2 separate regions of the Homo sapiens genome follow, and region 1 is linked to region 2. The links come from fine-mapping of genetic effects on gene expression. Tissue or cell type: tibial nerve. Region 2 holds a variant in brackets; the other region holds the start of a gene. All regions are shown on one strand. Distances are from middle to middle.

The links. PIP is the estimated chance that this variant, and not a neighbour inherited with it, causes the effect. A credible set is the group of variants that fine-mapping cannot tell apart.
Region 1: LINC01435 starts here. The variant in region 2 is the best candidate, but not a certain one, in a credible set for the expression of LINC01435 in tibial nerve (GTEx, PIP 0.79).

What each region holds. Positions count from the first base shown.
Region 1 is chr10:108,066,991-108,072,385 of GRCh38, reverse strand. LINC01435 (long intergenic non-protein coding RNA 1435) reads left to right here and starts at 3,093. Exons shown (of 5, transcript NR_125760.1): 1 at 3,093-3,204.
Region 2 is chr10:107,901,155-107,906,549 of GRCh38, reverse strand. The region is part of intron 4 of LINC01435 (long intergenic non-protein coding RNA 1435); the gene reads left to right. Among named protein-coding and RNA genes, the nearest start is that of LINC01435, 170 kb to the left of the region's middle. The variant C/T (reference allele first, on the strand shown) is at 2,268.

The sequences.
Region 1 (5,395 bases), 170 kb before region 2:
GAGGCAAGAATTCAAGATGCTGCAGATGTATAGGGATTCGCAGCCAGTAACTCGGCGTAACTTCGATCTCTTCACCAGTAACATTATGAGATGATGAAGTGATTTCTCTCTGTTCTGAACTCACATGAAACATAGTTTTCTTTATATTTCTTGCCATAGACAGAGTCTGCACTTTGTCTTATTTTTTCTCTGTGAGTGCAATGTTTCTTGAGGGTAAGATGGTCTTCTGCCATTGTATTCTCAGTGGTGCTTGTCCCAAAATAGGTGCTTGATTAAGGTCCTGGGAAAGAACAGGGGAAAAGAAGAAGATAAAGATAATATATTTATTGATTGATTCATTTCTTCACTGAAAGATTTTATATGTTTTTAGATTCATATAAATTTATATTCACACATGTGAAAAGGCCATGTCATGTAACAGCTACATATCCTTGTGATTTTCAGCTGGTAACTTAATATGATTTGGGCTTCATCCTTTCCATAGTAAGCAAGTTGGTTTTATGACTCAACTTCTGACTCTGTTCTTCAGTGTGTGGCTTCCAGTAAGGGACTTTTATAGGATGAATCCAGGAAACATTTAGGTGGTACAATCCACCTACTGTTCAAAAGTGATGGAAAGGCGAGTTTGGAGGTGATAGGCCTTTTCTAAATGGCTCCGTGAGCATTTTTATTTCACTAACAACATAGAGACTATGACAGGCAGAATATTGTCCCCACCACAAAAATATTCATGTCTTAATCTTAGAACTTATAAATATGTTGCTTTACATGACAAAAAAGGCTTTGCAGATGTAATTAAATTAAAGATTTTGAGATAGGGAGATTATTGCAGATTAGCCAGTGGGCCCATTGTAATCACAGGGGTCCTTATAAGGTGTATGGGTCAGAGTTAGCAAAGGAGATGTGACAATATAAGTGGAGGTCAGAGTGTGAGATTGAGAACCAGGGAATGTGGGCAGCCTCTCAAAGCTAGAAAGGCCAAGGAACCAATTCTACCCTAGAAACTCCAGACAGAACACAACCCTGCTCACACCTTCAATTTATACTGTAAGACCTGTTTTGACTTTCTCCCTTCCAGAACTGATCCCAAATTATTGGTCTTCATTTCTTTCTATTAGACTGTATATTTCTTGAGGACAGTATTCTTATGTGGTTAGTCATTACATCCTCTGTAACATCCAGGACAATACTAAACAAAATGAGAGGATTCAATAAATAGCAAAAGAACATATATCAGTAAATCCCCCCAACCCCTGCCCAGGGAATTGATAGAGTCATGTACAGTCATGGATGTTTTCAAGTAGATGGAAGGTCGGAGAAACAGGTTGGCCAATGGAGAGGACACTACCGAGTATGTGTTTGAAGTGGCTAGCAATAAATCCTTAGTAATCAGTTAAGGCATACAACAATAACAGCTTGGCATGAACCCTAAATATACAATGTGGATATTCCTTAGAAAATATATCCTTTAGTAAACTCATTCTGAAGGAGCTGGTTAGTTAGGATGCTGGTTCCTAATAAAAAAGAAGAGAAACTGTTTCTAGCAAGAGGTAGTAAAAGCTGAAGTAACATTTACTGAGCACTTTATGAGACATTTAAGTACAATTACTAGAAAATACTAATTGGAGAGTGAAATTACCTCTTTAAAAAGTTAAATGATTTGAGAGGGGATATTCATTTGAAAAATCATTTGGGAGTTCTAATTCAATCTATAGAATTAACAAAACCTACGTATTCTTTTTGTACTCCATATTTCTAGAAATGTTGGAGGAGCTTCAATGAGTGAGAAACTGTGTTACCTGCAAAAGATAAAAGCAAAACAGAATGCATTGATGAAGATAATTCAATCAGCATGCACAGCATAGAATTGTTATAGATTGGGTAACTTCATCAAGACTTCTCCATGACTGAAGGTGGTAGATTCTGAAGGTAGGAAAAAATGCAGGGACTTTGACATCTTTAAGCCTTTGAGGTCTATTCTGTTCCAGTTATCACTATGAACTTTGTTTTATTGGCTCTCTAGCCTCCCTTTCTCCTGCTTCTCTCATAAGCCCACTCAATTTAACCTTCTGATATATTGGACCTATGTCTCCCATCCCATCTTGGAGTTTTCCTCTGGGCATTTTATCCCTTCAATACCCCACCCTCACAAGAAGGAAGGAAGGAGGGAAAGAAGGAAGGAAGGAAGGAAGGAAGGAAGGAAGGAAGGGCAGGAGAGGAGAGAAGAGGGGAGGGGAGGCGTTATCTTTCAATAAGTTGGTATTATTATATTTTAATAATACCTAATGTCTTTAGTTTTATACTAAAACCAGTGGACCAAGCATCAGTAGACCAAGTAGGACTCAAGAATGAGAATATCTTATAGGTGAATACATGCTTTAGAAAATCAAGCATATGAAAGCCATATTTTACCATAGTAATGTATTAGATGACAAAACTCAACTTTCAAAACAATCTGTGTGTTGAGATTAAACAAAGAAGCCCTTTAAGTGGCAGTCTTTTCACTATACATGTTTGTTTATAGGTCATTCACTAGAAAAATACATGAAGGAGATGGAAAGGATTTGGAACTAAAGTAAAATGGTACTGTGTACTGATATCTAGCCAAAAGAATGATGTCATATTGCTGAAATGTCTAATAAACTTTGGAAGAAGCAAATGCATTTTATTATTAAAAATTAGCATCAGGACACTCATAAGTGGAAAATGAAAATATGCAAACAAATAAATGTTCTTGATGCCAAAAGTATAATAAGACTATATTTTGTAATAAAACTTAAAAAAGTCCAAGATAACATTTATCCTCATGCATAGCTTGACTTAGTAGTCAAATGATATCATCCATGAAATTTATCTCCAGTCATCTTCTCCCATTATGTGTGCTGGCCTCATTCTCAGATAGGTTCTCCTACTCTATGCAGGATTAAATCCAGGAAAAAAGAAGAGAAATAGCAATTAAAAAAAATCTTTCTCTTTTCTGATCAATCTCTCCTCTGATTGGTTCAAACTGGCCCCACTGTGATTTCATAACTACCCTCACCACAATGTTTATAGTCAAGGGAATGAAATGTGTTTCTTGGCTTGGGCTTAAGTCTTATGCCCATGTCTGGAACTGGAGTGGGATCGGCCACATTGAAAGAACACAGCCTGAGGGCAGGGAAGCTATTGAGCCCCAGAGAGAAGTTAAAGTACTTTTCATGAAAGGTAGGAGAAATCTATATAGGGTGATTTAAGAAAACTATATTTCCAGTGTACTAATTGTGTACATGAATATCCTGTGTAGTTGTGATGCTTAGACTAATATTTTGGATAAAGTCTGGCAGTACCTTTCACTGCCAATAGCAATGAGGCCTTACTATAAGAAGTAGGCAGAGCACAGCAACCAGAAGACTCTCCCATGTAAGCTTTGCTTCCACTTGCCACTAGGAATGCAAGCAACTTCAGCAGATAAACCTGCATGAGTGCCCACACACCATACTCAAATACCACCTCAGAACTAACTACAGCTCCAGAACAGTGTTAATGAGCAATACTAATCTAGTCAGGGGATGGAAAGAGAAAGAATAAAAATGTTATTTCTTCGATTTTACAAACCAGAAAAAAAAGCACATGTTCATCATATGTAGATCTTCCAAGCTATCCAGGATTTACCAAAAAATCAAACAAACAAACAAAAAACAAAACCCATTAAATCCAATACAAAATCCTGAGAAAAATATAATTCTCTATTTTAGATTTAAATAAAATGAATGTGGTTTCCAGTTTCCACTTCAACAATATTTTACAGTGCTAAGTTCTGTAGGTTGATCCTCATACACATACAAATTTCTTTAGAGGTGATTCTTTGGTTTTCAGAGTGGAGAGGTAGCCCCTTGGGATCCAGGTAGAAGGACAAGCAGAGACGGGTGTGTCTCTGCCTTTATTCTGTTCCCCATTTTCCATTTTTTCCTGCTGTTTGTGGAGGTTTTGGTTGCCATCTCAGGGCCTTCATTCTGTCTTGCCTCAGCTTCCCATCACTTTAAGCCCAAAGTGGAACTGGTCTACTTTGGAGGAGGAGACTTTGAGAGTCAAATATCTCAGCCAGGTTCACACTGGGTACACCATAAACTAGATCTAGAGATTTCCATCAATACAAGATACTACAATGCAACACAAAAAGTATTCCTGCCATTACTACTTTTGGAAACAGTGTACACATTTGCAGTTTCTTTATCTTTGTTCATTCTTATCTTTTTCCATCATCCCTAAACAACATACTATTAGCATCTCCTCCCATTTATCCATATTGTCCCTCCCTATATGGAAAATTCTGTCTTTTTCTGTCCTTTCTTTAAAATCCTGACTATAGTATAGTTTGAAGTCAGGTAGTGTGATGCCTCCAGCTTTGTTCTTTTGGCTTAGGATTGACTTGGCAATGCGAGCTCTTTTTTGGTTCCATATGAACTTTAAAGTAGTTTCTTCCAATTCTGTGAAGAAAGTCATTGGTAGCTTGATGGGGATGGCATTGAATCTGTAAATTACCTTGAGCAGTATGGTCATTTTCACGATATTGATTCTTCCTACCCATGAGCATGGAATGTTCTTCCATTTGTTTGTATCCTCTTTTATTTCCTTGAGCAGTGGTTTGTAGTTCTCCTTGAAGAGGTCCTTCACATCCCTTGTAAGTTGGATTCCTAGGTATTTTATTCTCTTTGAAGCAATTGTGAATGGGATTTCACTCATGATTTGGCTCTCTGTTTGTCTGTTGTTGGTATATAAGAATGCTTGTGATTTTTGTACATTGATTTTGTATCCTGAGACTTTGCTGAAGTTGCTTATCAGCTTAAGGAGATTTTGGGCTGAGACAATGGGGTTTTCTAGATATACAATCATGTCTTCTAGGCTACACTAACCAAAACAGCATGGTACTGGTACCAAAACAGAGATATAGATCAATAAAACAGAACAGAGCCCTCAGAAATAACGCCGCATATCTACGACTATCTGATCTTTGACAAACCTGAGAAAAACAAGCAATGGGGAAAGTATTCCCTATTTAATAAATGGTGCTGGGAAAACTGGCTAGCCATATGTAGAAAGCTGAAACTGGATCCCTTCCTTACACCTTATACAAAAATCAATTCAAGATGGATTAAAGACTCAAACGTTAGACCTAAGACCATAAAATCCCTAGAAGAAAACCTAGGCATTACCATTCAGGACATAGGCATGGGCAAGGACTTCATGTCTAAAACACCAAAAGCAATGGCAACAAAAGCCAAAATTGACAAATGGGATCTAATTAAACTCAAGAGCTTCTGCACAGCAAAAGAAACTACCATCAGAGTGAACAGGCAACCTACAGAATGGGAGAAAATTTTCGCAACCTACTCATCTGACAAAGGGCTGGTATCTA
Region 2 (5,395 bases):
TTGGAAAGTAAAAGTTCTTGTTGACCTCTTTAATTCTCTTGGCACTTTTGATTACAATCATCAGAGGATTTGTCACTCTGGTTTGGAAATGCTGTCTCCAGTCCCCCTGGGAAAGTCGGCCAAAGACTTTCCCTGGCTTTGGCCGAGTGGATGGATTTTTGAACTAGGAAGTTCTGGGCTTTCTCATAGGCTGCTAAACCAGCTATTCAGTGTGGACTTCACTTGCCTGTATTTGCATTACCTAAATTTAGACTCCAGAATTAGTATTCTGTTGGAGGGGCCAGGAGAATAAACAGGTACATTCATGTTTTAATAACTCCCTAGATGATTCTTACAAATACTGAAGATTGAAAACCATTCCCTACAGGATTTTATTGTTGCACATGTAGGATGTCCTGCCAGCTCTTTAGCAAGAAGAGACAATGCCTTTTCCTGGAAAGTGATCTTTCTATTGTTAAAATAAGCACCTTGATTAGTAATTCTTGTAGTTGGAATGAGTTACACGGAACCGTCATACCTAGATATCCGCATGAATAATGTATGCGTTGTGAGGATAAAGGGGTACAGTCTTTTGGCTGTAGCGTAATGGTTAGTAGCAATGACTCTGGAAACAGATGCCTTAGATATGAAATCTTTCTCCAACTTTTATTAGCCTAGTGACTTCATGAAGATAACTTTGTGACTCTGCCATCATATGTAAAAAAATACCCTTCTTACAAGTTTGTTAGGAGACATATAGGTTGATAGATATCTAGCAGTTAAAATAGTGATTGGCACATAATAAACACTCCAATGTTAGATGTTGATTGTTATTACTTTGTTATTGTTATTTTATTAACAATCATGATAATCACAATATCTAATACCGACTTTATATATATAATATATATATTCTATCACTTGTGATATTACTATCTTTTTATAATGTGCTCCCTCCCTTTTCTGTTTTTTACCCTTTTCCTCTTTGAGGGCTGGAGCTATTTCTTACTGTATTTGTTATTGTGCTGTTTTGTTTTGTTGTTCACATCTCCCTTACAACATTTGTAACTATTTGCCCAGAGTAAATACTAAATTTATGCTGGTTTTTCTTTAACTTTTCTTGGTGCAGAAAAGCATAAGTTAATAAGACTTATGACCTTGTACAAGAATATGAGAGAATATTATATAGTCATTAAATGTAGAATCTATATGTAATGGCTTGTAAAATATGTGTAGCAAAACAAAGTAAAATCATAAATTTGAAAAACATTAAGACTTTAAGACAAAAATTTTTGTCTGAGTTCTCTTATGCCTCTCAAATATCTAATTGGGCATCTGGTATATAAAAGGATCTCAATTTTGTTGAATACATTTTTGTTTTTGTAAAATAAAATGAAGCTGTAAAAATCTAGAAAGATGTGGCTAAAATGTTACCACATTATGACTGAGGGTTTCAATTATCCTTAAAAATTTTCTGTATTTTCTGATTATTTTATGAACATAAACTACTTGTATGATTTTCTTAAATAATTGCAGGCTGAAAAAGGGATGATGAACTTAGCCTCATTATACTTAATTTTAGGTGACTAAATTTGACAAAATGTATCTGATTGCTACGGTTGGTAGCTGGTTTTGATGACAAAGGTGGCAAGAAGATCACTCTTCTCTTCTGAATGTATAATAGCAGATATTTTCACTCCTTTCTTGAGTTTTCTTTTTCTTTTAATTACAGAAGAGATATATTTGAAGGTATTTGCACCAACGAGACCATATACAGTTTTTAGACATTCTGGTGACCTGTGCTTCCAACAAAGAGAATATATATGAATGAGTAGATACATACATAGATAGCTGGTTAGATAGATATAAATATATTTCAATTTAAATCTGACATTAGCTTGAGGTTGATATTCATCTGTCTATGCATAGATATTAATATATGTACACACACATGCACTTAGCCATAGGTATTATACATAGTAAGTCAAGCACTTATACTCTTCCTGTAACTCCTCACTCATGGAGGTGAGGTATTAAATGGTCTTCTGCTTAAATGGAAAAATCTTAAGGCAAAGGAAATTGGAGGAGAAGGTGAGAGACAGATACTGAGATACCGAGAGATGAAGAAAGAGAAAAGACAAAGTCAGAAACAGATAGTAAGTCAGAAACATGGAGATTCAGAGATACAAAAAGAATCACAGAAAAGAAAGGCAATGACCATGGAGAACTTGTAATCAATATTTTTAAAAAGTACCAAAGTGGAACATGAGCTTATAGTCACAATTTTT[C/T]CTAATATACTAATACACTTTTCTACATTTGGTGGAAGTTCTGAATTTTTGATTCACAGATGCTACACTGCGCTATTCAATTACCCACGAAATGTGCACCAGATTGCAGGGCACAGGCCACCCACAGTTTTTTTGCAAAGGTGTATTCATGTGGCTCCTGAATTTTCAAACTTTTTTTCTTTTTTTCTTTTTTTCTTGTTTGGCTCAGAATGCATGTTACCTTTGAAACAGTATTTGCTGTAGTGGTTAAATTTCTAGGTCAAACCACAGAATGCCAGGGTTCTCGTTAGGGCTTATGCTGTGATTTTTGCCATCAGGTGGGTTAGATACTTTACATGCTTATCCAAGCATCAAACTAGTATTGGCAATTTCATTTCTGGTAAAAAAAAAAAAAAAAAAAAAAAAAAAAACCTGTAGTTTAGAACTCATGTTGAATAGTTGTGGTAGCCAAAACCTTGAATCTTTGTCCTTTTTTGACTCTCCAGAGCCACTGAACAAAAGGTAATTGGTATGTACCCAAGCCACATTGTACTTCTCTTCTTTATAGAAAAAGTGATTTTGTCATTTTTCCCTCTTTGAAAAAAAATAGCACAGGTAAACCATTGTGTATTCTTGCTGTCTGTAAAAGCTACATTTTGTTTAGCTGGGGCTGCTTAAAAGACTTACTCAAACAGCAATGTGTTTTACAAGAAACTGTTAACAATTGTTAATTTGGGCCATAAGACTGATGGTCTAGTACAGGAGTGGGCAAACTATGTCCTGCGGGGCAAATTTGGTTTGCCGCTTGTTTTTTTAATAAAGTTTTATTGGAACACAGCCACATTCATTTGTTTTTTTACGTATTGTCTATCGATGTTTCTGGGCTGTAACAGCAGTGTTGAGTAGCTATAATAGTGACCGTATGTTCCACAAAGCCTAGAATCTTTGCGATCTGGCCCTTTACAGGAGAAGTTTGTTCACCTCTCTCCTAGATCATGAAGAAATTTTTAACTGTTCCTTTTATATTTGCCTGTGCTATTTTGAAATATTTTTGCTGTGTGTGTGCAATAAAACTATTACAACATTTTAGATGACTGTTCGGCTGTCTACTCAGATTGTGCTCCCATGCATCCTCAGAAATCAGCAAATGTCTTATGAAACAACCTGAAAATACAGATATCCTAGAATGGAGGTGAAGAGAGCATTTAGAAGGACAATCTAGGTACGAAATTTTGGTTGGCAGCATTAGCAAGTGAAATATTAACATGCATTGACATAGATTAAAGAAGATTTGATATAGATTGTAGGATATATTTTAGTGATCTTGGGGAATCTAGAAAGGAAGGTGGGGAAAAGAACACTCAAGGAGGAAAATGCTCATGTTTCCAGCAATGGCAGTTGAGTGGATAATGGCATTATGCATTATGATAGGGGAAAGTCAGGGATGCGGGATGTGGAGTTGCCAGTAAGGAAGAGGAAATGCTGTTCGACTCTGCTTTTGTTTGTACTTTGCAAGGTAGATGGAGCCTCCAGTACCGCTGAGGGTAATTTTGTGTGTGCATGTGTTTGTGTGTCCACATATGCACTTACTTTCAGCTTGGCTACACTTGCTCATGAGAATATAGTCTATGATTTTCTTTGATGTCTTAGTCAATTTGGGCTGCTATAACAAAGTACCATAGACAGAGTGCCTTATAAATGACAGACATTGATTTTTTAGAGTTCTGGAGGCTGGGAAGTCTGAGATCACAGTGCTGGCAGATTTGGCGTTTGATGAGGGTTCCCTTGCTGGTTCACAGACATCAACTTTCTGTAGCCTTACATGGCAGAAGGGGTGAAGGAGTCCTCCAGGGTCTCCTTTATAAAGGCACTTAATGCCATTCATGAGGGCTCTACCTTCGTGATCTAATCAACTGCCAATGCGCCACCCGCCCCCCCCCCCCCCCAATACAATCACGTTGGGAGTTAGAATTTCAATATGTGAAATTGAGGGGAACAAAAGCATTCAGTCTATGGCATCTGGCTTCTGGCCTTACTGCAGGATTTTAAATCAATGATGACCATACAGAAGCCCCTGATATGAATAACTCTTGTTGCCTGACTGAGTCCTGTGTGCTGAATAACCTTGGGGTTCCCTACAGTGTCTGCCCTGGATGTCAAATAACAAATCCCGTGCTTAACCCTACAAGTCATTCTGAGCAGAAGTACAGGAGTAAGGACTTGTGCTATGAACTTTCCCTGAGGAGGAGAACGTGTTGATCAGATACATGGGCCAGCATATTCTTGAGCAAAGCCATTCTCAAGGTTGGTGAGGTCCACAATAAACTCATGATCTTCTCATGGTAGCACAGAGATGAGCTGCTACTCCTGAACCCTTGTATCATCTGGCTATCTCTCTGAAGCTTCCTGAATGAGGTGTACATTATTAATGCTGATGGTCAAGAAAAGTATGTGAATCAATGGCTGCTATAAACTTTATATGAGTTAAGTCAAGAGAATTGATGAATAATTGAATTACTGGATAAAATTGCTAAGCCAGTTCTATCCACCAAGTCTGTTACTACCAAAATCATTTCTGATGCATACCCACCCTTTCTTGAAATATCTTAATATGGCTCAGTTGTCATAAAAGACTATGTGTTTGTTCCATAACAAGGTTTTCTTTTTCACGTTAAAAAATTGAGGGAATCAAAGTTTTCTGTCCAGTCCATTAAATTATCAGTCCTGTATACCAACAAATTCCTGAGGACTTTTAAAAAAAGGTTTGTTTGTTCAATTAGGAATGAATAAATAAATTAGTAATGAAGGATGCTCCTCCATTAATTTTCTTCTCTTGCATCCCGCTTTCTTCAAATTTATCCTGCATGCAAGTATCTCAGGAAATAGGATTTGAGTTGGGGCTTGATGTGAGAGACTGAGAAGATGTGGGAAGTGGTATAGAAAGAGCAATTAGAATGTGTGACTGACAGTTGACCAATGGTTCACAGCAATGACGTTTAATGCTCCATTGCTAATGGAAATTGTGAATGTGGCTAATGGAAAAACCTAATTAAGAAAGCAGCTTAACAGACTCTGTAGAAAGCAAAAGTTTTGATTGAATTGAAGTGTTGCTATTAATAGTAATAGTAAACTACTAAAAGTCTTAAGAC